Homo sapiens: one gene and its partners. The protein of the gene in region 3 purifies or fractionates together with the protein of the main gene of each other region. This does not show direct contact. Each region holds a gene or a part of one and is shown on either strand. Other genes may lie near its edges. The genes, in order: NID2, COL18A1, DEFA1, NXPH4, CACNA2D1, COCH and ABHD17B.

Region 1 (3,500 bases), on a different chromosome or scaffold from region 3:
AGAGTAGCAGTTAAGATTCTCCAGCTAGATGTCCTAGGTTCGGTTCCCACCTTTGCCACTCACTGCCTATGCGACTTCAGGTGCTTTAGTCTACTGTGCCTCAGCTTTATCTGCAAACGGGTTAAAAAATTGTCCCTGGCCAGAGTGGTGGCTCATACCTGTAATCCCAGCATTTTGGGAGGCCTAGGTGGGAAGATCACTTGAGCCCAGGAGTTCGAGACCGAGACCAACCTGGGCAACGCAGGGAGACCCCTCCCCCCAACCCACCCTACCAAAAAATAAAGTAGGCAGGTGTGATGCATGCTTGTGGCTGCGGCTACTCAAAAGGCTGAAATAGGAGGATCACTTGAGCCTGGGAAGTCGAGCTTTCAGTGAGCCGAGATGGCACCACTGCTCTCCAGCTTGGGTGACAGAGCAAAACCCTGTCTCAACAACAGCAACAAAAAAAAGTCCCTGCTACCTAGGGTTGTTGTGCAAATTAAGAGTTGTTGGCCGGGCGGGGTGGCTCACGCCTGTTATCCCAGCACTTTGGGAGGCCGAGGCAGGTGGATCACGAGGTCAGGAGATCAGGACCATCCTGGCTAACATGGTGAAACCCTGTCTCTACTAAAAAATACAAAAAATTAGTCAGGCGTGGTGGTGGGTGCCTGTAGTCCCAGCTACTCAGGAGGCTGAGGCAAGAGAATGGCGTGAACCTGGGAGGTGGAGCTTGCAGTGAGCTGTGATCGTGCCACTGCACTCCAGCCTGGGCGACAGAGCGAGACTCCGTTTCAAAAAAAAAAAAAAAAAAAAAGGTTGTTAAATGTAAAGCTTGTATATGTTAAGCGCGATTGAAGTGTTAACTTTGTTATATTTTTATTTGCTGATGGAGGTCTTTATCTTGGTGACATTGTACCTATAATGCTATGTCTCATTAGCTCCTTTACTTTCTGTTCTCCCTGGGAATACTGGGTAAAGATTGATCTTTGGATTTCTTCCTCCCCTCCTGTCTCCTCGTTTCCAGATAGACCTGGAACACAACTACCACTTGGTTTTTCCTAAGAGTAGGGTGGGTGTCCTCCTTCATGCCAGCATCCGTGTCTCACACTAGAATTCCATGCCATCCCTGCTCAACAGCATGCTCCTGGAGTCTCCAGCCAACTCCACCTCCTGGGGATGTGGAGGCAGAGGTGTGTGCAGCCGCTTGGCCTCCTGGTGGCCATGCTTGGGATTGGCATATTTCCTAGTGCCCCGGAGAAAGCACCCTCCTGTCCATCCACAACCCCCGCCACACCCTACCCCCTTGGCTATTTCCTTTATGAACTATGGCATTTGCTCCAGTTTCCCCATTTCTTTGCAGCACAGATGGCCCTCTTCTTTTAATGGGCAGAATAAGTAGGAAATGGAAGAAACAGCTGCCAGAGCACTGAATTTATCCTAGTCCTCCATAATTTCTTGGAAGATCTGCGAGTGGGGCCCAAGCTGTCTGCTACTGCGTGGAAATCATGCTTGTACCATACCCATCATAGTTAAACCCTGCCAAGGGCATAGGGCATTTTAATAGCTTGAATCCCTGTTGTTTTGCCCTCCTCTGTCCCCTTCTCCCCATGCCTTTTCTTTGAGGTAGGTGCGTGTGTTCTTTAAGACCCTTCCCTCAAAACAATCTTGGTAGCGAGACCAGCTATTATCTTTTTTAAGTTCAGTGTTCCCTAAAAGAAGGATGGTTAGACATAAGACATTTGTTAGCTTCTCTATTATGTCTTCCTCTCAGGATGTGTTTAGGTTGAACCATATAAAAGTGCTGATATTTAGCCCTTTTTGACCCACAAAAATAGTGGTTTCATGAAGTTCAACCTAACATGTACTTACTGGTTTGCTTTCATTTTACTGCACTCAAACCCACGGGTGCAGTCTCATCTTAGTTCACCAACTCTGCAATGGGACCCAGCCGGGAGCAGTAAGCAATTCTTCTTGCCAGCAGACAAAGCAGATTAATTCCCTTGGGTTGAATGTTATGCCGGTCTCTTAAACATCAAAAACTGTTTGTTATGATCTAAACTGCTTCTATGGAGCAGATGTTGTGTCCCCGATGCAGCAGTGACATTGGAATCATTTAGTCCTTTTAAGGCAAGTTTGTTTTATTTTTCAGTCTTCACGTATAATGCTGCCAACAAGGAAACCTGTGAACACAACCACAGACAATGCTCCCGGCATGCCTTCTGCACGGACTATGCCACTGGCTTCTGCTGCCACTGCCAATCCAAGTTTTATGGAAATGGGAAGCACTGTCTGCCTGAAGGTAATTGACTGGGGCCAGGAACTCCTGTGTGTCTATTCCTGCTGCTTACCTGTTTCCAGCTACCACTGTGAGCTCTGCTTTATGGACCAAACATCTCCACTACTTAAATCAGAGTGCTATCAACTTGCAGGTGCTCAATAAATGTGTGAGGAATGAACTGGTTTGGGCTGATTCCCAATTTGAGGATTATCCAGAAATGCTTCCTTCTGCCAGCTCATTAGAGCCAAAGTGTAGTGGAGTAGAAGGAGGAGGGGAGAAAACAGACTGGAGGCAGGACTGTTTCATAGATGGATAATTGGTTGGTTAGGAAATCATTAAAGTGACTTGCTAAAGAGTGAGTTTTGGAAGTTGTCAGTGGAATAATTATACCTGGGTACACCCATCTCTAGCCAGGATGACGTCCAAGCCTAACTGGATTTGCTGTCTTTTAGGGGCACCTCACCGAGTGAATGGGAAAGTGAGTGGCCACCTCCACGTGGGCCATACACCCGTGCACTTCACTGATGTGGACCTGCATGCGTATATCGTGGGCAATGATGGCAGAGCCTACACGGCCATCAGCCACATCCCACAGCCAGCAGCCCAGGCCCTCCTCCCCCTCACACCAATTGGAGGCCTGTTTGGCTGGCTCTTTGCTTTAGAAAAACCTGGCTCTGAGAACGGCTTCAGCCTCGCAGGTGAGTAGGGCCTCTGAGAAGGCCGGTAGTCAGCATTGCTTTGGCAGTGGTGCTCCTTGGGGCACTGTCTTTAGGCCTTTACGCAGTGACAGAGGAATCACTTGTTTAATGTACTAGAGCCACATGTGTGTAGTTTTCTGGCCACAGGTTGTTGGGAATGGTTTGACCTCACATCACTGATTTTTGAAAGGCAGTGATTTCGTCTAAATGTTCTCCCAGCTGTTCTGAGAAACAGGATGATTCCATTCAGAACATTTGTGTCCTCTTACCCCAATTTGTTGCAGCATATTTGTCAGGCTTTTTAAATTATGCACAGATCTGTCAAATGCAAAAATGGTACTTGGGGCACCTGGGGATGATTTTACTTCATGGGGAAGGGGTGCTCTTCTCCTCCCAGCTCCACAACCTATAATAGTATAGGCCGGTGCACCCCAGACTTGAACCTGCACACACATCACTTGGAGGTCTTGTCAAAATGTAAATTCTGGTTCAGCAGGCCTGGGGTGGGGTCCGTGATTTTGCTTTTCTACCAAGCTAGGAGGTGA
Region 2 (3,500 bases), on a different chromosome or scaffold from region 3:
GGGTCAGCCTCCCTCCTTCCCTGTGGTGGAACTGTGGCTTCACAGTGGAGGCCAGGCTGGGGTGCCGGCCTGGGCTGCTCCAGCAGGGTCAGAGTGGGCGGGCAGGGCACAGGGCCGGGCGGGAAGGCTGCCAGCCCCAGCCCCTCACAGCTCCTTGCCCCAGCGGGGGTGCCGGCCAGTCCCTGGTCCCTTCTCCCCACTGGCTCTGCCCATCAATGCTCAAAGCATGGAAGGGGAAGCCTGTGGACACCATGTCTGCTGTGCCCATCCCTGCTCAAAGCATGGAAGGGGGCCTGTGGACACCATGTCCCGTGCAGACACCATGTCTCCTGCAGACACCATGTCCCCTGCACACAGGTTTCTGCATGGAGCCTGCCTGTCGTTTGGGAATGAGTGAACCAGGGTGGCCGTTGGGTGGCTGAGCCCAGGGGATCAGGGCAGGCTGCCAGGCACGTGGAGAGCCCTCCCAGACTCAGTTTCTCCTTTCTGCCCCTGCCTGGCTGCCTCTCCAGGCCGCGTCGGTGGCCCCTGGTTCCGTCCTGCACAGCCACCTCACCAGCTGTCTTTCTTTTTGCAGAGCGCATCAGCGAGGAGGTGGGGCTGCTGCAGCTCCTTGGGGACCCCCCGCCCCAGCAGGTCACCCAGACGGATGACCCCGACGTCGGGCTGGCCTACGTCTTTGGGCCAGATGCCAACAGTGGCCAAGTGGCCCGGTACCACTTCCCCAGCCTCTTCTTCCGTGACTTCTCACTGCTGTTCCACATCCGGCCAGCCACAGAGGGCCCAGGGGTGCTGTTCGCCATCACGGACTCGGCGCAGGCCATGGTCTTGCTGGGCGTGAAGCTCTCTGGGGTGCAGGACGGGCACCAGGACATCTCCCTGCTCTACACAGAACCAGGTGCAGGCCAGACCCACACAGCCGCCAGCTTCCGGCTCCCCGCCTTCGTCGGCCAGTGGACACACTTAGCCCTCAGTGTGGCAGGTGGCTTTGTGGCCCTCTACGTGGACTGTGAGGAGTTCCAGAGAATGCCGCTTGCTCGGTCCTCACGGGGCCTGGAGCTGGAGCCTGGCGCCGGGCTCTTCGTGGCTCAGGCGGGGGGAGCGGACCCTGACAAGTTCCAGGTAACCCCCACTGTGCCGTCGCTGGGGGACTGGAGCAGCTGGGATGGGGTGGGGTGGGGGTGGCCACTGGGACAGGGACGGAGCTGTGGCCGGAAGAGGAGAGCCCCCACCCCAGCTGTGGTCAGCCCGGGCCTCCAGCGCAGGCCTCCTGGGTTCTTGGCTGCTCAGCCCTGGCCTCCGGCGCAGGCCTCCCGGGTTCTTGGCCGGCCTGGCTGGGGTGGCATTCACTTTCTTGGCTCTCTGGCTCCTGCGCCCCCAGGAAGGGTAGCCCTGGGCTTCCATGGTTTCTCTGAGACCCCGAGGCCCAGCCCAGGAGGGCCCTCTTTGAACGACTTTGTAACTAGACATCCACCCCAGCCGTGACCCCGTGACCCAGAGACACCCCCAGGCCTGTGCCAAGCCCTGTGGTGAAGTGGGGCTCCCGGCCTCTGACCGGCCGGTCGGGTAAGTGGGGACCGAGTCCAGGCCCAGCCACACGCCTCGTGGCCCCATGCAGAATGAAAGCTGGGGTCCTTGTTGAAAACGATGAACGATCCAAAGCTGGCGGCAGCAGGGTGTTGATCCCAGCAGGGTTCTCCTGTGGTAGCTGCACACCCGCTGGGACCAGGGGCTCAGGGCGGCCCTGCAGGTCAGCACCTTTAACAAAGGGTGCAGCAACCCACGCCTGTGAGACTCCACTTTGGAGCACGTGGTGGGAGTCCCCCAGCGGTGAACGCACGTGGCCGCCTCCACCTGAGTCTCCGGGAAGTCCCTCCAGTGGGCCTTCATTTCTTGGGGTTGGGGGGGTGGACAGATCCCTAAACCCATGTGGGGTCTGTGTCCAAAGCCCCTGCATTTCTGGGAACCTTTGGCTGGGAACAGCCACGTGGGTGACCTCAGCTGGCACTGTCTCACAAGTCCCTGAATTCTAGCATTCAAGCTGGCCTGCAGCTGGACGCCCCTGCCCTGGCGGGCCGCAGGGGACAGAAGGTTAATTATTGCCCAGACAAGGGCTGTTTGTTTGAAGTTGTTCTAAGTCCTGGTGTCTGGGGGTTCTGAAAGCTGACTTTTCACCTTTGGCAGGAACTTTTAACCCTCAGAGCTCAGGAGCCGCTAGGACGTTGACACCAAACTGGGCCTCTTTGTTTTCCTCTTGATCACAAACATGATTACCGGGAAAGAAGTCAGAGTCACCCCCTCCAGTGAGAGGCAATTTGTTGTGTGAGTCCCCAGCCGTTTCTTGGTGGAATAAAGTGGCCCACAAGTGCCGTACATCTTTAACACTGTTAGGAAAAGCGGCTGAGTGCCGAGAGCTCGGTACGTGGGTGCACAGCTGTGCCCCGATGGTGCTAGGGAGAGCCGGGCCACCGCCCTGCGGTGAGGGCCTCCTCATCAGCGAAGTCCCGTGTGTAGGAAGAGGGGGTCTGGGTGTTTAATTTTGCATTTCTTGGACTGTGAAGATAGACTTTCATTTTGTCACTTGTTTATTGTCTGTTTGTATTTCTTCCTTTGTGACTGACCGGTTTATGTTCTTTGTGGTTTTCAATGGGCCCAACTCTCAGTGATTTATACAAACTCCTTATCTTTAAAAGAAACTTCTCTTTGGTTTTGCATGCTGCAGATTTTATTTCTACCATGTCATTTGCCTTTTTACCTTGTCTTTTTTTTTTTTTTTTTTTTTGACTATTGGGATTGGATGTGTGGTTTTTTTGTGGGTTTTTTTTTTGTTTTTTTTTTTTTAGATGGAATCTCGCTCTGTTGCTCAGGCTGGAGTGCAATGGGGTGATCTCGGCTCACTGCAACCTCTGCCTCCCAGGTTCATGCGATTCTTCTGCCTCAGCCTCCCAAGTAGCTGGGATTACAGGCACCTGCCACCATGCCTAGCTAATTTTTGTATTTTTAGTAGAGACGGGGTTTCACCATATTGGTCAGGCTGGTCTCGAACTCCCGACCTCAGGTGATCCACCCGCCTAAGCCTCTCAAAGTGCTGGGATTACAGGCGTGAGCCACTGCACCCAGCTGGGATTTGATGTGTTTATGTGGTTAAATCTGGCCTGGAGAAGACACCATGACTTACAACAGCCCAGTGAAACCTTGGAAGGTCAGAGAGCTGGAACAGGAGGGAGCTAGAGGGCCCTGGGTCTGGCCCTGGGCTGGGGCCCTGCTGGGCGTGGGTGGCGTGCAGCAGGCCGTGTGCTGCTGGGCGTGGGTGGCGCGCTACAGGCTTCGTGCTGCTGGGCCTGGGTGGCGTGCTACGGGCTTGTGCTGCTGGGTGTGGGTGGCGCGCTACGGGCCTTGTGCTGCTGGGCCTGGGTGGCGCGCTACGGGCCGTGTGCTGCTGGGCCTGGGTGGCGCACTACGGGCCTTGTGCTGCTGGGCGTGGGTGGCGTGCAGCAGGC
Region 3 (4,254 bases):
TCAGGCAAAGACCATATGGAAGTGCCATCACCAAACGTGGCCATGGGGGAGAAAGGCTCCAAGGAAAAGTGGGTGCCAGCCAACCCCATCATCAGTGTCAATATAGAAGCACTGGGAAGAAAGCCCTGAGTGACAAGATGTCAGTGTTCTCTATGATTGGCCTTGCTTGGTATCTTATGTACAAATGGCTTGTGGGGTAGCTGTTTAACCCAGGCCTGGCAGCCTAGAGGGCTGCTGGAACAGGACAGCCCTAGTCAGAATTTGTACCCCAGACTGGAAAACTGGGGAATTCCCTGTAAGCCCTGTTACAGGGGCTGCACCCCAGATACAACCTGACCTGTGTCCAAGGCGGGCAACTCAACCCTTAGATATTGAATGGGTCCCATGGCACCAATGCTTAAACACCAGCAGCCCTCACAACCACAGATCGTGTTTTAAGGATGAGGAGGTAGTTCTCTGGATGCACAGGCTTCAATCCAAATGGGCTCATGACGCCGCAGCACACACCCAGACTGCAGCCTGAAGAGTTGGAGCATTGCATTCACAGAAAGCATCCAGACATGATCATGGGCTCAGGGATACACCTGTTCTCCGATGTGTACCAGTGAAGGATGGAAACTCCTATGCCTCCCAGAAAGCACCACTCAAGCTTTTGCTGAATGCTTCTCTGAAGGCCCACAAGGCCTGAGAGGCTGTGCAACACCAGCAGTAAAGTGAATGCCCAGACTCCCACCTCCTTTCTTGGGTGGCCATCTGGAAAGGCCACTCCCACCCTGATGGCTAATGCCTCAGACCAGTTCTTGGCCCAGATGATCCTAGACAATTGTTTAAGCTTAAACTGTTCATTGGCCAAGCAAACAGGTGATAGTCACCTCTGGGGAACCACATGCCGCGTGTACATCCAGTACTCAGGAGAACCCAAAAATGTCTGTTCCACATAGCAACAGAAGCCCAGGTAGCACTCAGTCTCACCTGGGTGTTCTCCAACATCCCAGCTCAGCCAAATGGCTTTCATTAGTTTTTATGGTTAGACCCCAGGTCCTCGGGACACTGCTTTAGAAACACATTCCAAATCCTCCTCTGTGTGCAGGTGGCATTCCTATCCCAATCTCTTTGCAGGGCGTATACTGTGATACGCAGCCAGGCTGTCCCAGAGGCCTTAAATATTCCCTTGGTGCAGGTAGTTCAGCTTAGCCACAGCCAATGCATCACAGGGTCAACTGTGTTAGGAGCCATTGAGAATCCATAGTTGGTTGCTGCCTGGGCCTGGCCAGGGCTGACCAAGGTAGATGAGAGGTTCCTCTGTGGAGTTCTACTTTAACCTCACCTTCCCACCAAATTTCTCAACTGTCCTTGCCACCACAATTATTTAATGGACCCAACAGAAAGTAACCCCGGAAATTAGGACACCTCATCCCAAAAGACCTTTAAATAGGGGAAGTCCACTTGTGCACGGCTGCTCCTTGCTATAGAAGACCTGGGACAGAGGACTGCTGTCTGCCCTCTCTGGTCACCCTGCCTAGCTAGAGGATCTGTAAGTACTACAAAACTTAAACTTTACACTGAGTTTTCATTATTGAAGCTATGCCTCCAATCTGACCTCTGACTGTGGGGCCACCCCAGAGGGAACCAGCGGGCGAATCCCTGCTAGGAACGTCTGTCCGGACCTCTGGTGACTGCTGGGGACGATGGCTTCCAGCTAACTTAATAGAGAAACTCAAGCAGTTTCCTTCTAAACACACATGTCACATGTCCTGGTTGACATGTCCAGTAGAGACTATCACAGGTCTTTGGAACATTCTTTTGAGAGAAACCTATTTAGGTCCTTGGTCTGTTTTTCAATCAGGTTGTTTGATTTTTGCTATTGAGTTGTTGGAATTCCTTATGTATTCAGATATTTGCCCCTTCGGCCATGTAGGTTTTGCAAATATTTTCTCTCATTTTCTGGGTTATCTTTTCACTCGGTTGATTGTTTCCTTTGCTGTGCAGATGCTTTAGCGTTAAATGAAGCCACACTTGTCTATTTTCCCTTTTATTGCCTGTGCCTTTGGTGTCATAGCCAAGAAATCATTACCTACATCAATGTCAAAAGCTTTATCCTTCTATACACTTCTAGTAGTTTATGGTTTCAGTTGTTACATTTAGGTTTTCAATTCATTCTGAGTTGATGTTTCTACATGGTGTGAGATAAAGATTTAAATACATACATATATAAAATCATGAGGTAGTGTACACTATAAATATACAATTGTTAATTGTTACTCAAGTCTAAGTAGAGGTGGAAATAATAAACTTTCTTTTTTTTACTTAAACCACTCTGTGTCACTGAGCTGATTTCACCTTTAGCCTGATAAAATCATTGTCCTCTCCACCCTGATTCCTACAGGAGACTACTCACCCCATAACCTCAAAAACCTCTTCATGAGGATGGTAAGTCACCTGAATCCTGAAGTGAATTACTCGCTATTCCATTGGAACTCATATAGGACACCAGAATCTAGACCTCCAGAGAACAGCAGGACCCATCTTCAGAAAATAAGAAGCATTTGTTCCCTGAGCCTGTTGAATCAAAGTGCAATTTCTATTCTTTTTGGAATGTTAAAAAGTGAATCATAATATTTAAGCAGGTGAACCCACGAGTAACATAGCAGGGTCTTTCTTGTCATTATTAGCTCCAACCTAGCACAGACATTAAAGGTACAGATGTATACTAGCATGAAACTGGGAGAACAGGAGCATTCGAGCAACCTTGAGACCAATGGGCCTCTCTTATAAAATGCACACCTCCTCTCACTGAGATTGAGGAAGGTTTCTTGTCTCCGAGCCTTCTCCCAGTAGAGCTATAAATCCAGGCTGGCTCCTCCCTCCCCACACAGCTGCTCCTGCTCTCCCTCCTCCAGGTGACCCCAGCCATGAGGACCCTCGCCATCCTTGCTGCCATTCTCCTGGTGGCCCTGCAGGCCCAGGCTGAGCCACTCCAGGCAAGAGCTGATGAGGTTGCTGCAGCCCCGGAGCAGATTGCAGCGGACATCCCAGAAGTGGTTGTTTCCCTTGCATGGGACGAAAGCTTGGCTCCAAAGCATCCAGGTGAGAGAGGCAGGCATGCAGAGCTGCTAAGTCTAGAGGGAAGGACGGGAGAGAGGTTCCAGAGTTGGGTCTCAGCAGTCTATGTCACTGAGGTGGCTTCACTTAGAATCTCTGGGCATTGATTTTCTCATCTAGAAATTGAACAGAGAGCCAAATAAACATGAGAAACTTTATTTCTCCAAAGACTTGATTCCAAGAAACGTCTGTGAAATTCACTAAGTTTCAGATATGAAGAGACAGACTAGTTATTTCTGGATCTAAACAAGTAGACTTAGTTGTAAAGAGAACATTTTACTCTATCTACAGAAGAGCTTTTAAAAACTGCAGCCAAGCCTGAGGATATGTTCAGGTGTGTGTGTGATGGGGCAGGAATGCAAAAATGAGAGCAAAGGAGAATGAGTCTCAAATTCTGAGTGACAAGCACTGCTCTGCGTGTTTATTCCTATCGACTGAGGTTGTTCGTGCTAACGGCTGCAATGCAGCCAGCATCACCTGTCAGCTAGCATGTGACTTCCCCGAGATTCTTTTTCTTACCCACTGCTAACTCCATACTCAATTTCTCATGCTCTCCCTGTCCCAGGCTCAAGGAAAAACATGGCCTGCTATTGCAGAATACCAGCGTGCATTGCAGGAGAACGTCGCTATGGAACCTGCATCTACCAGGGAAGACTCTGGGCATTCTGCTGCTGAGCTTGCAGAAAAAGAAAAATGAGCTCAAAATTTGCTTTGAGAGCTACAGGGAATTGCTATTACTCCTGTACCTTCTGCTCAATTTCCTTTCCTCATCCCAAATAAATGCCTTGTTACAAGATTTCTGTGTTTCCACCTCTTTAATGTGTGATATGTGTCTGTGTCAAGACACTTGGGATACACGTACCAAAACGCAAAATCAAATTTTTGAACAATATAAAATTCCAAATTCTAGGAATTTCAAGCAGGAGTTTGGGCTTCAGATCCAAATTGAAAAGAAGGCCCATATGACACCACTGATTTCCCCACCCACTGCTCTGCCTTTTCACCCTGCCTCATTTTCTCTGGATCCACTCTCAAAGAGCTCGCGTGTGCTGGGCAAACAATCGGTGTCAGCTTACATTTCATGCAGTCACAAAATCATTACTTCTCCGGGAAAAAAAAACCATCCTCTGTGCTAAAGAATTGGAGTTTCAT
Region 4 (4,055 bases), on a different chromosome or scaffold from region 3:
ACACCTGTGTATGTCTCAGTGTGTGTGTCCACCTCTGTGGGTGTTTGCTCTCTGCCAAGACAAAGAGAGGGTGAGCGCACTGAGCAACTGTCTGGGTGTGCTCGTCTGGGTGCAGGTGTGCTCACCTCTGTTGCTGTGCTCCTCTGTGTGTTGGGGTGCCGCTAGGTGTGCGCCTGTCTCTGTATTTCGCTCTGTGTGCCCTGTCCCCGTGAAGGCATCTGCGTGCATCCCTGGGGTGGGCTCTCAAGGGATGTGTCTGTCTCTCAGTCTCTTTGCTTGTCCCTATCTCTGTCTAGGTGTTGGTCATACCACAACCTCAGCCACAGCCTCAGTGCATAGCAACAGCTGACAGCTGAAACCACCCGGGCAGGAGAGAGAGAGGCAGTGGGGAGGAGGGAACCGAGGAAGAAACAGAGAAGAGGATGGGGGCAGAGAGCTGGGGCTGGGGACAGAGACAAGGACAGAGATAGGGAATGGGGACAAGGATCTAGAAGAGCTGGTGGTGAAAGATGGGACGGCGGGAGGGGAGGAACAGAGACTGCACCAAGAGGCCAGGCAGGCGGCGCTGAGAGGGATTTCCTGCCCAGCCCCCATGCAGAGGCGCACTGGGCCTCGTGGGGGTCAGTGGTGGGGGCCAGGGGCAAAGGTGAACAGCCGGTCTAGCCGAGGGGTCCTGAGACCGCAGAGGTGCGGTGAGGCGGGGACGGGGCGGAGGGCGCCGTTTGTCAGCCCTATTGACAGACGTGATGGGGTTTCCGTCCGTGATCAATGATTCTCATCTCCGGGCCGAATGAGCCGCGGGGCGCCCATCCATCCCCGTCAGCATCGCGCGGCGGCAGCCGCCCGAGGCCCCGCCCGTCCCCACCTCGGCCCCTGCCCTGCGCCTGCCCCGACACACCTTGGCCCTGAACAGGGCAGAGGCCCGGGGCTTGGAGAGCGTCGTCCGGCTGGGCTCCGCGGCGCCCCCACTCCAGGTGCACGGGCCCGGAGCCCAGAGCCCCACGCCCTGCCCCGTTCCTCCTGGGCGCACAGACGCGGCCTCTCGGGGGACCAGTGCCTGAGCCCCTCGACCCCCTCCGCTTCGCACCTGGGCCAGGGGCGTGTCCGGGGCGTGCCGGTGTGAAAGTCACCTTCGGTGCCCCCAGCTGGGCGGGAGGGGGCGCGCGGGGCGCGGCCGGGATTGGAGCGCCGCGGAGCCCCGCCCCCCGCCCGCGGAGTCAGACCCAACTTTCTCCCCCGCCCGCGCCCCGCCCCCAGCGCCGGCTCCGCGCCTCGCGCCCAGTCCGCGGGCCGCGCCGCCGCTCCCGCCGCTCCCGCCGCTCCCGCCGCTCCCGCAGCCGCCCCGCCGCCCGCCCGGAGCCCCGCGTCCCTAGGCCTGGCTCCCGCCTGCCCGAGACCCGCCCAGCCTGCCCCGCTCAGCCGCCAGAGAAGATGCGGCTGCTCCCGGAATGGTTCCTCTTGCTCTTTGGCCCGTGGCTCCTTAGGAAGGTAAGAGTGGCAGGGCTGGGGCGCTAGCGCGGGCGCGGGGTTCCGGGACGCGAAGGTCCCAGTGTGCGAGGGGCTCCGTGCGCCCGCCCCGCCCCCAGCTCCGAGCGTCCCAACTTTGCGCGGCGCGGGGGAAGCGGACAGACAGACTGCCCGATTCAGGACGGGCACTCTCCTAGCGCAAGTTGGCTGAGGCTTGGAGAGGGTGCCGGGCGGAGGTCCCCCTTGCAGCCGACTTCAGGCGCGGCGGGGGAGGGGACGAAGCCCGACCCGCGAGTGCGCCAGACAGAGCGGGAGTGCGAGACAGACAGACAAGCCAGCAGGGTGTCAGCCTTGCCGTCTTTCCGCGCCAGTCTCGCTCGCCTGCCTCACTGTCTGTCTGTCCTTCCACCCCTCCACCCCCGCCTTCCCATTTCTCTTCTCTGCACTTGTCACCATGCCAGGTGGGCTCTGTGTCGGGAGCATCCATGGCCCGAGCACACACGCACACACGGACTCAGGCAGACACGGCTGAACTTGGCTACAGCCAGCCTCCCATCACATTTCCCACGGAGACACCATCTCCCCTGCACGACCTCACAGACACACCCCCCTCTCGTGCCCCACTGAAGGGGGAGGCTGTCTGGAAGGGGAGTCTCTCCTCCCATGCCCTCCCTGCCTCCAACCCCACTCCAAGGCCTCTTTCCCTGAGGCTCTCGGGCGAAGAGCCAGAGGCTAAGGGAGCTCAGACTTGATCTGCCTCCTTCCTGACTTGGAGGCTTCAACCTGCGAACATGCTGTGCTCATATGTGCTGGGTGGAGGGCGTGGGTCACCGTGTGCACCTGTGTGCATGTGTCCAGGGAAGCCAGGCTTGGTCCAGTACTGGGGCCGAGGGTACATGTGTATACTGGTGTGGTGTGTGGTGTTGGCTTTGCATGAGTGAGTGTCAGTGCCTGCCTCACAGTGCAGCCATCTGCCTATGCCCCTGGTGTGTGCCCGCAATGGGGGCCCAGGCCCCAGTCCCCCATTTTCCTTCTACCAGCCTCCCCTGCCTATGGCTTCCCTGTTTTCTGACCCCCAACTGTGACCTACCTAGTTTGGGGGCAGGCAGGTCATTCCCCAAACCCTCATTCTCTGTACCCTCAGCCCCTGTAGAGTCTAGAAGGGGTGTATTTCTTCCCCCAACACTTGGACCTCTGCCTGCTCAGCCAAATCACATTTGGCAAACCCCAGCAGGGCAGGGGCTGCCCCAGTGAAGCTAGCATTAGAGCTCCCTGGCCCTCCCAGCCCCACCTGGTGACCTTGAGGGGCTGCACGGTAGGCAGAGGAGCCCCTCCATGAAAACTGCTTCCACTAGCAGGAGCTTCTTAGGGACTTGCTGCCCAACTCTGTCCTTAGTGAACTGGAGGAGTGGGGGGGGTCTGTGCCCTACCACCCACCCACCCATGTGTGAAGGCCTGGGGTCAAGAGGTGGTAGGTATGGCATTCTCTTGCCCCTCCTTTCCACTTCCTCCCACCTCATCTCCACTCTCCCAGGCAAATAAACTCCCCTGTGGACAGATCTGGTTTAATTTCCTTTGCCCCCTGAGGGGGAATGAAACATCTGGTGGAGACTTGAGTGAGAGTGAGCGTGAGGATATGAGCAATGGGATCTATCTGAGTGTGTGTGTGTGAGCTGCAGCTGTGGGGCCTCCGTGTTGGAGTCAACAGGGAGAGTGGATCTGCTGGTTAGCCCAGCTTATGTGCATGTGAGAATGTGTTTACATGTGTACACACTGCGGGTGTGTGAATATGTATAACTGCACGGGGAGGTGTGGGTATATGAGTGTTTGTGTGTCCAAATACCTGTGTGTGCTTCTGTGCACTTGTGAGTGTGGCGTATGCACATGTATACCCCGGGGTTTCTGGTGCATCTGTGTGCTGGGGCCCATGTGTTGTCTGTATGAGTCTCTGGGGTTTGTGAGTGTGTTTCTGTGTGCTTGTGATTGTGAGTGCATTTGAGTGTGCTATGAGATTGTGAGCCTCAGGATGTGTTTATGTATCTGAGTGTGGCTTATGTGTGTGGGTGCTCAAGGGTGTCTTGGTGCCAGCACTGGGAGTGGGCAAAAGGTGAGGCTGATCCTGGGTAAGAGGTGGCTAGGGGACAGTTTACAGGGCAACTTTTTGGCAACCCTAACCATGAACGGCTGACACCTCTGCCTCTCCCGTCCTGCTTGCTCACCCTCCTCCAGGTTTCTCTCCCTTCCTCCTCACTCCAGGCTTCCCATTTCTCAGAGCCTGGGACTCCTGGCTTCCACTGCCTCTGGGGTTCTGGCCTCTCAGCCAGGGATTCTTGAGGATCTTTCTCATACAGTCTCTGACTCCTTTCCCTCTCTCTCTGTCTCCCCGACCCCTTGCCAAAGCAGCTGCCTACTGGGAGAAGCAGCAGGCGATCAATAGTCACTAATCACTAATCACTAATTACTAATTAGCTGGGGGAGGGCAGGGGCGGGGCCCTGTGGGACCTGCCAGCTCTATCCCGCCTCAGGAAAGGATTAGGTCTGATTCTCTTAGAGCTGGCTGGCCGAAGCCCCTCAGCCAGCTACCCCCT
Region 5 (2,417 bases), on a different chromosome or scaffold from region 3:
TCATAACTGGTATTGACATTTTAGAAAACACCAAAGTGATTTAAAATATATGTGGGGAAAAAAACTTCTCACTCTAGTAACAATGTTTTAATCATGTTGTTTGTTAAATATTTAAAAGTTATTGTTCAATTTTTGCTAGACTATCTTAAATCATGATAGTGTTGGGAAGGGGGTATCAAAATATAAAATTGTTAGTTTGTGTATATAAACAATGCACATTAAAACAATTGAATTGCTTCCAGCATACAACAAACTACCTTAAAATTATGTTCAAAATCTATTAAATATATTTTCATGGCTAATGTCGAGTATATGTTTTCATCAATTACATTGTTATTGTATTAATCGCGGTTAAACTTGGCATCTCTTGGCAGGATCCTATTTAATTTCTGTTGCCATCAAAATATATTTATATGCATGAGTTTTGCTATAAACCTTTATTTTCTGCTATAAAGTTATATATTATGACAACCATAAATGCAATTACAAATTGGGTAAGAACAAGCTGAATAAAAGTTGTTCCCATGACTAATATTAGTCTTCATGCTTTTAGCATATTTTTTAAGACAGTAACACTCATCCCATCAAATTATTACATTACATTTAGTATTTTTCTGAGTTACATTGACAAGAACTTAAATTATAGCCTGTTATTAATATTGATTTCCAACGACTGAACAGTACAACAGATCAATAAAAAAGTTTATACACTGCTTTAACTAATTTTTGTTATACTCATGTGGCTTAGTGTAGTTAGTCACTAAAACAGAGTTCAAGTGAGCTTGGCAATGGTGTTGAGTAACAAGAAAGAATTTTGCATTAATGATTTCTTTTTATTTTCCTCATTTAAACAACCAGCATTACTGCCAAACACCAACCGTGGTCCATATTTGTAACAGGTTTTTAACATGACATAGTTAGCAAGTTTGATTGAAGAGATTTTTAGGTCCTGGGCCTATAAGATTTTAGTATGATCTTTTTTCATGTTTCTAATGCTTGAGGTGTTACTGCTTAACTTGGGAAAAAAAAAAACAAAAAACAGTGTTCCTGCCATTTGTAAGTTTTCCTATAATATTCCTTTTATTAACTTTAAAACTGGACTTATCGGGTTCAAATAGGCAGTATCCCTTTTAAGTGACCTTTGCAACCCAAGTGTTACTTGCTTATTTGATGCTCTCTTGTATTTTAAATCTCATTTAAATCTTTGTCTGTGACCAACAAAGCTTAAGATTTTGTCTTCATTTAAAACTCTGAATCTATTCCATTGATCATGTTAGACGTTCAAATGTTTAATGGTATAGTCTGACCTAGTGAAACAAAATGGATGTTGTTACTTTTTTTAAAGAATAGAATGAAATAACTATTTCACTTGCCCAAAATTTTAAATATTTTTTCATCTAAACTTGTATTGTTTCCCATAGCAGAATGTCAATATTCACAGTACATTTCTGTAAAGAGCAAACCAATATAATGTTTTGAGTGTTGAAAAAAATTCCAGATTTTTGAAGAATTAGACAACTCTTCATCTACCTTATTTCTAGTTCACACAGTTATCTCAAATTCCACTGAAACTAATGGGATACTGTCTTGTGTAGATGCCAGTTGAGTTTATAATGTGACCTAGTAAAGCTGTCTTTTTTGTTGTGTTGTATGAGTGTCGGATCATGCTTTTAGGAATACTTTTATTAAAATGGTGTGCATTCATGCAAAAGGCCAACTGGCTTTTGTGAACAATAGATCTTTTCTCCCCTTTATTTTGTTCTCTTGACACTTTTGTGAAAATTACCTAGCCTGATAAAAACATTTTGTAAAAATTTGTATAATACTGTTATAAAATATTTATAATCCCAGAAAATGTTGTGTTAAATCTTGTGCAAAAACAGTATATTCAGAATAAAAGTTTATCATTTAAAGTCACCACGCGGTTTGGGTTTTCTGCTTTTTAAAAGATCCAGTTGGAAGAGACAGATGGCTCTGTCATAAATAATTTTAAGAGAGAATTCTGGATTGTGGAAATAAAAGTTGGGATTAAATAGTGCTTTTACAATTACAAACCTCAACTCACACAAATACAGTCAATCCTTGAACAACATATGTTTGAACCACATGGATATACTTATATGTGGATTTTTTTCAACCAAATGCAGATTGAAAATACAGTATTTGCAAGATGGAAAACCCACATATACCAGGTGCCTACTTTCTGTATACTCAGATTCTGCGGGGCCACTTTCCAGACTTGACTTGGGTATGCATTGATTTTGATACACGTGGGCATCCTGAAACTGATCCCCCCCACGCACAGAGGGATGACTGTCAATTCACTCGCGATGCCTTTACTTAAGTCTAACCTTCTAACATGCCTTCTCCATCAAGGCACTTAGGAATGTACTTCATCAGACTTTGGACTTCTTTTA
Region 6 (3,999 bases), on a different chromosome or scaffold from region 3:
GCAGTGAAGGAAGCCGCACAATGTATAATCCCATCTATAAGAAACGACCACTAAGAAAAATCTATAGAGACAGGAAATAGGTTAGTGATTGCCTAGGACTAGGAGTGGGAGAAGAGACTGACTGACAATGGCGAGGAGATCATTTTGGGGAGGATGAACCTGTTCTGAAATTGGCTTGTGGTGATGGTTGTACAGCTCTGAAAATTTACTAAACATCATTGAACTGTACACTCAAAACGGATGGATTTTATGGCATGTAAATTGTAACTAAATAAGGCTATTTGAAAAAGTTTATATTGTACCAGAAAGGTTAGCGTCTGGGCCTGGGTCTGGTTCTTCCGCTGCCATGCAGGTCGCCTGTCACTAACACTCCTCAAGAATTCTGCTCCTTCTCCATTTCCATTTGTAAAACGTTAGCAGGATGGTGCGGGGAGAAGGAGAACACATTATCAAATCTGAGATTCTGTGCAGTCACAAGACACCAAGTCTGGGAATTTCGAAAGGCAATCAGGCATAAATTCTTCCTGAGGTGAGAAAGAAGCAAAGGTACCGGCTGCTGGGGTCAGGGCTGTCTCACACGCGTGGCTCTAGGCAGGAGCACAAATTGAACCACTGGGGAAAGTAGGACTCCAGCAGAAACGAAGGCGCAAGGCCGAATCCCTAAGGTCCAACGAGCTAGCAGTCAGTTGACAGGGTTTCTAACAAAAACGCGGCATGCGTTTACCAAACCTAGGGTGGTTTTATTTCAGAAGTAGGAACTCTTTCCACGAGAGCACCAAGTTGAGAAGTTCGGTTCTCAGGCCGCGTGGACCTGACAGCTCTCAGAAGCTCCAGGCCTCGCTGGGTGGGGCGGGTAGCGGCCGCCGCTGCCTCAGCAGCCCTGGTCCCGGCAGAGCAGGGCTGGCGAGGCCGCTGCTGCCGCCGTCGGGGCCGCCGGCCCTCCACACTCGTTGAGACGCCGGCACGGGGACCTTCGTGCCCCTCTAGGGACTGGCGCCGCGTCCAGGTGGCCGAGCCTGCGCTGCTGGAGGAGGCGCCTCCGCGCCGGCCTCACCCCGGGGCCGGCAGGGGGCGAAGGCGGAGCTGGAAGTCGCCGCCGGGCCCCGGGGGACCGGCTCCCGCGCTTCCTCCCGCGCCCCCCGCACAGTGCTCATGCGCACGGCCCAGCCTTTATAGCGGCCGCGGGGGCCTTGCCTTCCGCACTCGGGCGCAGCCGGGTGGATCTCGAGCAGGTGCGGAGCCCCGGGCGGCGGGCGCGGGTGCGAGGGATCCCTGACGCCTCTGTCCCTGTTTCTTTGTCGCTCCCAGCCTGTCTGTCGTCGTTTTGGCGCCCCCGCCTCCCCGCGGTGCGGGGTTGCACACCGATCCTGGGCTTCGCTCGATTTGCCGCCGAGGCGCCTCCCAGACCTAGAGGGGCGCTGGCCTGGAGCAGCGGGTCGTCTGTGTCCTCTCTCCTCTGCGCCGCGCCCGGGGATCCGAAGGGTGCGGGGCTCTGAGGAGGTGACGCGCGGGGCCTCCCGCACCCTGGCCTTGCCCGCATTCTCCCTCTCTCCCAGGTGTGAGCAGCCTATCAGTCACCATGTCCGCAGCCTGGATCCCGGCTCTCGGCCTCGGTGGGTGCGCGCCCCTCACGACCCCGGCCCCTTGCTCCGCTGGGTGGAGGCTGGAGCCAGCCCTCACGCTTCTCTCTTCGCAGGTGTGTGTCTGCTGCTGCTGCCGGGGCCCGCGGGCAGCGAGGGAGCCGGTGAGTGGGGGAGCTGGGGTGCGTCCAGGCGGTCGCAGGGGCTGAGCACCAGCGGGTACAAGCGGGACTCAGATCCAGCCCCTTGGGCTTCAGCCCTACCGCCTGAGGAGGAAGGCGCGAAGGTTGAGCCGCCGCGTGGCGCGCCCGCGTTAACCCCTGCAGCCGATCTGCTCCTGCTCACCTGTTTCTCCCATGGTAGGGGGCCCCTGGGGTCCAGTGGGGGGACGTTCTCCAAGAGCACTAGGAAGAAGGCCTCCTCCAGGCCCACCCACAGCCCCAGACCCCGGGCCCGCTGAGCGCCGGCAGCAGGAGGTCGAGGAAGGAGGACTCCTTGAGCCTCACCGAGGAGCGCACCAGTCCTGGGCTCTGCTGCGTTTGGGGGTGGAGGAGAAGCCGCCCAGACCCGACTTCAGGTTGCCGTAGCCGAGAGAGAGGGAGGCGAACGTCGCTGTCCCACCTTGTTTGACTCGCTAGCTATGTTTCTAGGTGTAACCCCTATAATCAGAAGCACTCGCGGTCTCACTCTACACGCTAGAGAGTTTAAAAAGTTTGTACCACGTGTAGAGGTCCGGGTATGGGTGTGTGGTTTGGTGTATTTTCCAGTGTAAAAGGCAACGCTTTCCTAAGAGCTACCGTTTGTTTTCCTTGAAAGTAGGAATGAGGGTTAAGTATCCCTCATGGCTGTATTTCTCCCGCTCTACTTAACAAAAGTCAGTGTTCGCAACTAAAGGCGGTCGGTCTTGGCACCGGATTCCGATGCCGCCCCCATCTCAGCGGAAAATGGGAGGAAGGATTAAGGCTGTTTGATGATAGGTATGAGGCTGTTTAGGGGTAAGGATTTTAACCTCTCAGCTCTCTAGACTGCTTCAGAGCTAAGAAATGGGCATTGCGCCTGCATCCTTCCTTCTCTTCCATGGAATGTAAGGTACCTGTCACCACAAAGGGCACAGAGGAGGGTGCTTGTCACAGGCAAGGTACTCAGTTGGACAGTATGGCCAGAAAGTATTCCTCTGCCTTGGAAAAAAAAGGTTTTTAAAATTAATATATGTTTTAAAAAGGTTTGGATAACTACAACTTCCCATGTTTGAAAAATAGCATTTAATAACATTAATCTCAATTTAGTATCGACAGTAAATTCACAAATTAACATGTTGTATTATGTTATCTTGTTACTTGTTGCCAAGAGCTTGTCTCTTCCTAGCATCATTTATAGTAAAAACTGATTCTTTGTTAGGTTGACAGTGTAAAACTTGAGAATATTAACAGTGCTTTCTAAAAATGCATCCGCTGCTTGATAAATCTCACTGGACAGATCTGGAGCAGAAATAATCAGGTTCAATTAAGATAAAAATGCTGTATTCTGAAGGGATTCACTTTTCTGTTTTCTGTCCTTCGGGAGTTGTAGAATGTTGTTTGGGCAAATTAACCCCACGGCTTTAATTTTCTCATCTATAAAATGAACAATCAAGTTAGATAACTTTCTGTGAATCTAAGCATCTTTTTGTTGGCTTCCTTAATGTGTGAGTTTAAGGATCTGCATTTGTAGGCTAACTAGGATAAATGGTCCTATGAAGGAAAGGATGGCTTTGATTTGTGCACATGTCTATGAAAATGTTCCACAAAGGCTCAATCCAGATTTACTATCTTTACCTCAAGCAACTGTGTACATAGCGTCATCAAAGTTGAGATTTAAAAATTTTTTTTTTTCTTCTGGAGACAAGATCTTATTCTGTAACCCAGGATGGAGTGCAGTGATGCAATCATAGCTCATTGCAAGCTTGAACTCCCGGGCTCAAGCAATCCTCCCACCTCAGCCTCTCCAGTGGCGGAGAGTACAGGCATGCACCACCACGTGTGGCCATTTAAAAAAAATTTTTTTTTTTTAGAAGAGATGAGGTCTTGCTATGTTGTCCAGACTGGTCTTGACCTCCTGGACTCAAGCAAATCCTCTTGTCTTGGCCTGCTAAAGTGCTGGGATTATAGGCATGAGTCACCACGCCCAGCCAAGATTTTTTATATTTCTATAATTAATATTAAATGACTTTTATTTTCTAGTTCAGATATAGTTCCAATTATGTATTTCCAACCTGGTTAAGAACTGAGAAGCCAGGCACAGTGGCACACCTGTAATCCCAGCTACTAGGGAGTTGGAGGTGGATCACTTGAGCTCGGGAATTTGAGCCTAGCTTGGGCAACTTGGCGAGTCCCCATTTCAAAAACAAAAACGAAATAAAAACCCAGAACTTTCACATTAG
Region 7 (4,229 bases), on a different chromosome or scaffold from region 3:
AGCGCCCGCCACCACGCCCGGCTAATTTTTGTATTTTTAGTACAGATGGAGTTTCGCCATGTTGACCAGGTCGTTCTCGAACTCCTGACCTCAGGTGATCCACCCGCTTCGGCCTCCCAAAGTGCTGGGATTACAGCACTTTGAGCCACGGCGCCCGGCCTGCAAATTAGTACTTATATACAACCCAAGTCCTCTGGCTATCTAGACAGTCTGAATTTTTTAGCAGGACTTTACAGAAGTCCTGCTAAAGATAAACAGCAAAACAAGTATTTTTACATTAACCAAATATTTTTATCTTCAAAACAATTGTTACAAAACAGAAATTTCACACAATACTAGTGAGGACAGCCTAAGACAGCTTAATCATTCACATTTCCTCTATGGGCTTGGGGTTTTTGGAAAAAAAAATCGTAGCTGCATAAACTTGGTGTAAAATTTGAAAAAGCCACTCATGCCACAATCCTCGTTTCCCTCTGCTAATGTGATCCAGATGGGAACGCTGAACGACGTAACTGCCCCATCTGCACCTTAGATTTCATTAGGGTCCTGTTCACTCTGTGCAATTAGTTAAGTGTGCTGACCATCAAATATTTACCAGGAGACAACATGTCCAGGTCAAAGAAAGGGCGTGAGAATAACATTTTAGAAAGAGTTGCACTGCAGCCAAGACTAACTCTGGGCTGCGGTCCACACTCGCCCCAGCCGACTCCTCTCATTTCCTCTCTCCCCTCTCCAGTGAGCCATTCCTTCCTGGAGTCAAAGACGGTGCAACAGGCAGGTTCCTACCTTGGTCTGCACACTTTTATCGAACTTGTCATTTTTGAAGCTAAACGTATTCTGGTGCTTCTGAGGTCTGGAACGAGCCACGTTGCCTTTCTGGGAGCTCATCGCCGAAATCAAAGCCACCCCTCGCCGGGAGCAGGCAAAAGGATGAGGGGAAAGAAAACCAACGAACTACTCCCAGGAATTGACGCTTCTGTCAATGACCCGGAAGAAACAAACGCAGCCTTTCCGCCCCGGCTCTGGGTCAGCCCACGTGACTCTTCTGGGAGGTCAAAGAGCATCGCTCTGCCCTCCCTGCTGTTAAGCCAAGCCACTCCACGCGGCGCAGCCTCGACCCCTCCGGCTCCGCGCAGCCTCTTTCTCAAACCCGGAGAACAAGTCCCACTTTCTTCGAAATGAGAATTCCCCCATTGGCCCGAATGTGTAGTCCATCAAATCAAAGGGGCGGGGAACCTTTGTTCCTATTGGTTCTTCTTTTCCGCAATCCCCGCCTCCTGCTGAGCGAGCTCAGCCTCTCCTTGAGCTCAGAGCGCCTCCCACCCTGCCGGGCGGCCTCTGATTGGTGGAAGTGAGGCAAGGCTGGGCTCCGTCTCTCCCCCCGCCCGCTAGTAGGCTGGAGCCGGGGTCAGCTTTGGCACCTTCCTCCAGTCAGTGGCCAACTCCTGGCTCAGTGGGGATTGTGCTCGTCCCCTCCGTTCCCCTCCAGTCTTCCTCCCGCTACCGGAACGAGCCTCGCGCTTGGCAGGCTGAGGAGGAGCAAAGAAAGCAGGATTAAAGAGAAGGAAGACCTGGCTAGGTCTGGGTGGCGTCTGCAGTGCCAGAAAGGGAGGCGGTGGCGGCGGCGGCTGCGACCACGGCCGCGCGGGACGTGAGGCCCGAGAGCAACCGACGGGCAGCGGCGGCCGCTCCAGCGCCCCGCACCGGGGCCGTTAGTCAGCAGAACGCGAGCTCTTGTGGAGGAGCAGGGCCGGCGCGAGGCGAGACTCGGGAGCGTGAGCGGGGCCCCTGGGGCGCCGCCGTCCTTCTTCGCCCCGGCGCCGGGGGCTGTAGCCCTGGTCCCCGCTCCTCTGTCGGGCCAGTCTGCAGGCGGAGAGAGTCGGACGGCGCCCGGAGCGCGGATCTCGCCTTGTGGAGGACAGCGCGTCGGCTGCGGTTCTCTCTCGACCCCTTCTGCCCGGCGCTTCGGCCCGGGCCGCTCAGGTGCAGGTGCGTGCGGCCTCGGGGTTTGGGGACGCCGCAGCCCGGCTCGGGGAGGGGGCGCTAGGCCGGGAGCCGCAGCGCGGGAGGGACGAGCCCGGGCCGGCGGGGGGAGGGGAGCGGGAAGCGTCTTTGTTGTTGGCGACCGGGATCCCTTCTCGGCACAGGGGAAAGGCGGGGAAGCCACTCCTCATCGGGTCTGTGTTTTTGAGAGGATTCTCTGATGGTTGCGTGAAGGGGAGCGGTAGGACAGTCCCTGCGGTCCGTGGAGCGGCCGGAGTCAGGGGGTGGGGGAGGGAGGACCGACCGACACTCTAAGAAGGTCTTTGGTCCTCCTCGGTGAAGAGAAGGGTTCCATTTCATTTCCTTTGCTTTTCTCTCAGTGGATGAAAAGATGGGGTCAGGTTCCCATTCCCCTCACTGGCGCACTGAGAGATTCGCGGGTGCCTAAAAGCTTTCTCCTGAATGTCCTTATATCTCTGTCGGGCGCGATTTTAGATTGAATCTGCACGGGGCTTGGCGATTTGTGTATTCCGGTGGGGCTGTCGTAGGGTTCTTTTTCTTTAGATGGTTGGGCTTTAATCTTATTTGTTTTCGAACTCTAAGGTAGGCTTATCAGGAATCGTTTTTGAATTGGAAAATTTAAAGGTTTTGTTTGGGATTTTTTTTAACCCCGAAACAAAGTTATGTCAAATTAGATTGTACTGTGTGGGGGCTCTCGTGAAGGAAAGAGTGTATTTAACCTGGGGTTTTTGTTTAAAAAAAAAAAAAGTTCAGATCTTTGATCTTTGGTGAGATCTCTGCCAATGCCAGAAGAGAATTTTTTGTAAATGATGCTTTAAGTCAGTGTGAAGTAGATTTGGTAAGCAAAAGGATGAATAACGGAATACAGAGGGTGACCTTTAAATTTCGCTGTTTATGAAATGTGTTCCTGTTTAATACTTTTTGTGATATATGATGCTTGATCTATAGATGATTCATTTGGAATTTTTTTATGCCTCTAATAAATCTTTGGAGATCTTGTGCCAACATATGAAACTATAATACCTAATGAGTCGGAGTAGAAAGCCAGATACATGTTGTAATAACGTTAATCTGTTTAGATTAACAGGGAAATTTACATTAAAATGAACTTTTTTCCGTAAAGAGTTTCTCTACATATGTTTATAGCATGAATTTCAGTTGGGTGACATCTAATGATAGCCAGTATTTTGAAAATTGTCATGATTGCTAGTATTCTAATTTGAGACTGCTCAACTTGTTGGTAAGTTTTTATTTGGAGAATAGGGGTCGTGTTACTTAAGGAACAGCAGAGGTAAAAATCTCTGTTGTGCAGTAATTGTCATATCATTTGAAATCCAGAAGGAAATGAATGGCACCTTCACCTATATTTTGACCTCTCTTTTCTCCTACTCTAGTGTTAATAAGGTTAATTGGCAAGGACAGGATTAGATTTTTAGCAGGCTAGGCAGTTTTAATTTTGTCCCTTAGTGTGCAGTATTCTAGTTGATGAGTAGCTTGTTTCCTTGAGTATCTTTGCCCATTTTGAAATGTTTATGAAATGACTGCTGACAAAGAATTTTCTGTTTCCTGGGACAAACAAAATCACCAAAAAACATCATGAAAAAATAATGTTTTTAGTAGCTTAATGAACACAGAAGAATTAAGCAATTAGTGTCTGTTCCAAGTTTGACACTGAATTGGTCTACAACTCCAGGCACGCTATCCCACATCTGAGTCAGTTTTCTCCATCTGTAATATAGGGCTGATAAAATGTGCCACCTGCTCACTTTATAAAAAGGGGAGTGAGAACCATGTAAGCAACAGTTACTCTGGTTATGTGACATTGATATAAGTTAAATGAGAATACTTTTTAATGCAGTGCTCTTACTTTGTTTTGATATTATGAATTTCAATCATTTGATGAACAGTTAGCATAAAGATAAGGAGAATGACTCTCCCTATGCCATCATTTAAGAATTAAAATTTCTTCCGTATTAAGATTGGTGTTAAGATCTTTAGAAGCAGTGATGACAAGAAAATAGAGTATATTTTATTGGTTGGTTTATTTACTGGTAGATTTTACTTCTGATTTATCCAAAGTTTTGCTCTTAATTCTGAAAATTCCCCCTACCCTTCCTACTCTTTAAAATTTCTCACATACATTGCCCCATTTGCCTGTCGAATCCAGCCTTGTGAGTTGGAGAGAGGGAAGGTGAGTTTGTGGCCTTTTTTTTTTTTTTTTTTTT

What was found.
Region 1: the proteins of DEFA1 (region 3) and NID2 purify together in Homo sapiens (affinity purification with mass spectrometry, with the first as the bait; 2 studies listed by BioGRID). This does not show direct contact.
Region 2: the proteins of DEFA1 (region 3) and COL18A1 purify together in Homo sapiens (affinity purification with mass spectrometry, with the first as the bait; 2 studies listed by BioGRID). This does not show direct contact.
Region 4: the proteins of DEFA1 (region 3) and NXPH4 purify together in Homo sapiens (affinity purification with mass spectrometry, with the first as the bait; 2 studies listed by BioGRID). This does not show direct contact.
Region 5: the proteins of DEFA1 (region 3) and CACNA2D1 purify together in Homo sapiens (affinity purification with mass spectrometry, with the first as the bait; 2 studies listed by BioGRID). This does not show direct contact.
Region 6: the proteins of DEFA1 (region 3) and COCH purify together in Homo sapiens (affinity purification with mass spectrometry, with the first as the bait; 2 studies listed by BioGRID). This does not show direct contact.
Region 7: the proteins of DEFA1 (region 3) and ABHD17B purify together in Homo sapiens (affinity purification with mass spectrometry, with the first as the bait; 2 studies listed by BioGRID). This does not show direct contact.

Annotation. Positions count from the first base shown.
Region 1 is NC_000014.9:52,041,560-52,045,059, reverse strand, and holds part of NID2 (nidogen-2 precursor), read left to right. Parts: intron 1-2,128; coding exon 2,129-2,278; intron 2,279-2,709; coding exon 2,710-2,955; intron 2,956-3,500.
Region 2 is NC_000021.9:45,467,665-45,471,164, forward strand, and holds part of COL18A1 (collagen alpha-1(XVIII) chain isoform 4 preproprotein), read left to right. Parts: intron 1-577; coding exon 578-1,122; intron 1,123-3,500. UniProt on the Homo sapiens protein: Probably plays a major role in determining the retinal structure as well as in the closure of the neural tube.
Region 3 is NC_000008.11:6,977,293-6,981,546, reverse strand, and holds DEFA1 (neutrophil defensin 1 preproprotein), read left to right. Parts: upstream 1-1,454; 5' UTR 1,455-1,534; intron 1,535-2,386; exon of another isoform or gene 2,387-2,421; coding exon of another isoform or gene 2,422-2,430; intron 2,431-2,900; coding exon of another isoform or gene 2,901-2,912; coding exon 2,913-3,087; exon of another isoform or gene 3,088-3,218; intron 3,219-3,667; coding exon 3,668-3,777; 3' UTR 3,778-3,898; downstream 3,899-4,254.
Region 4 is NC_000012.12:57,215,539-57,219,593, forward strand, and holds the start of NXPH4 (neurexophilin-4 precursor), read left to right. Parts: upstream 1-1,255; 5' UTR 1,256-1,431; coding exon 1,432-1,488; intron 1,489-4,055. UniProt on the Homo sapiens protein: May be signaling molecules that resemble neuropeptides and that act by binding to alpha-neurexins and possibly other receptors.
Region 5 is NC_000007.14:81,945,944-81,948,360, reverse strand, and holds the end of CACNA2D1 (voltage-dependent calcium channel subunit alpha-2/delta-1 isoform 1 preproprotein), read left to right. Parts: 3' UTR 1-1,917; downstream 1,918-2,417. UniProt on the Homo sapiens protein: The alpha-2/delta subunit of voltage-dependent calcium channels regulates calcium current density and activation/inactivation kinetics of the calcium channel. Plays an important role in excitation-contraction coupling.
Region 6 is NC_000014.9:30,873,360-30,877,358, forward strand, and holds the start of COCH (cochlin isoform b precursor), read left to right. Parts: upstream 1-1,199; 5' UTR 1,200-1,232; exon of another isoform or gene 1,233-1,556; 5' UTR 1,557-1,579; coding exon 1,580-1,613; intron 1,614-1,696; coding exon 1,697-1,744; coding exon of another isoform or gene 1,745-1,939; intron 1,940-2,819; exon of another isoform or gene 2,820-3,193; intron 3,194-3,999. UniProt on the Homo sapiens protein: Plays a role in the control of cell shape and motility in the trabecular meshwork.
Region 7 is NC_000009.12:71,908,394-71,912,622, reverse strand, and holds the start of ABHD17B (alpha/beta hydrolase domain-containing protein 17B), read left to right. Parts: upstream 1-1,429; 5' UTR 1,430-1,989; intron 1,990-2,106; exon of another isoform or gene 2,107-4,229. Other genes in the region: uncharacterized protein C9orf85, read right to left, coding at 787-888. UniProt on the Homo sapiens protein: Hydrolyzes fatty acids from S-acylated cysteine residues in proteins. Has depalmitoylating activity towards DLG4/PSD95. Has depalmitoylating activity towards GAP43. Has depalmitoylating activity towards MAP6. Has depalmitoylating activity towards NRAS.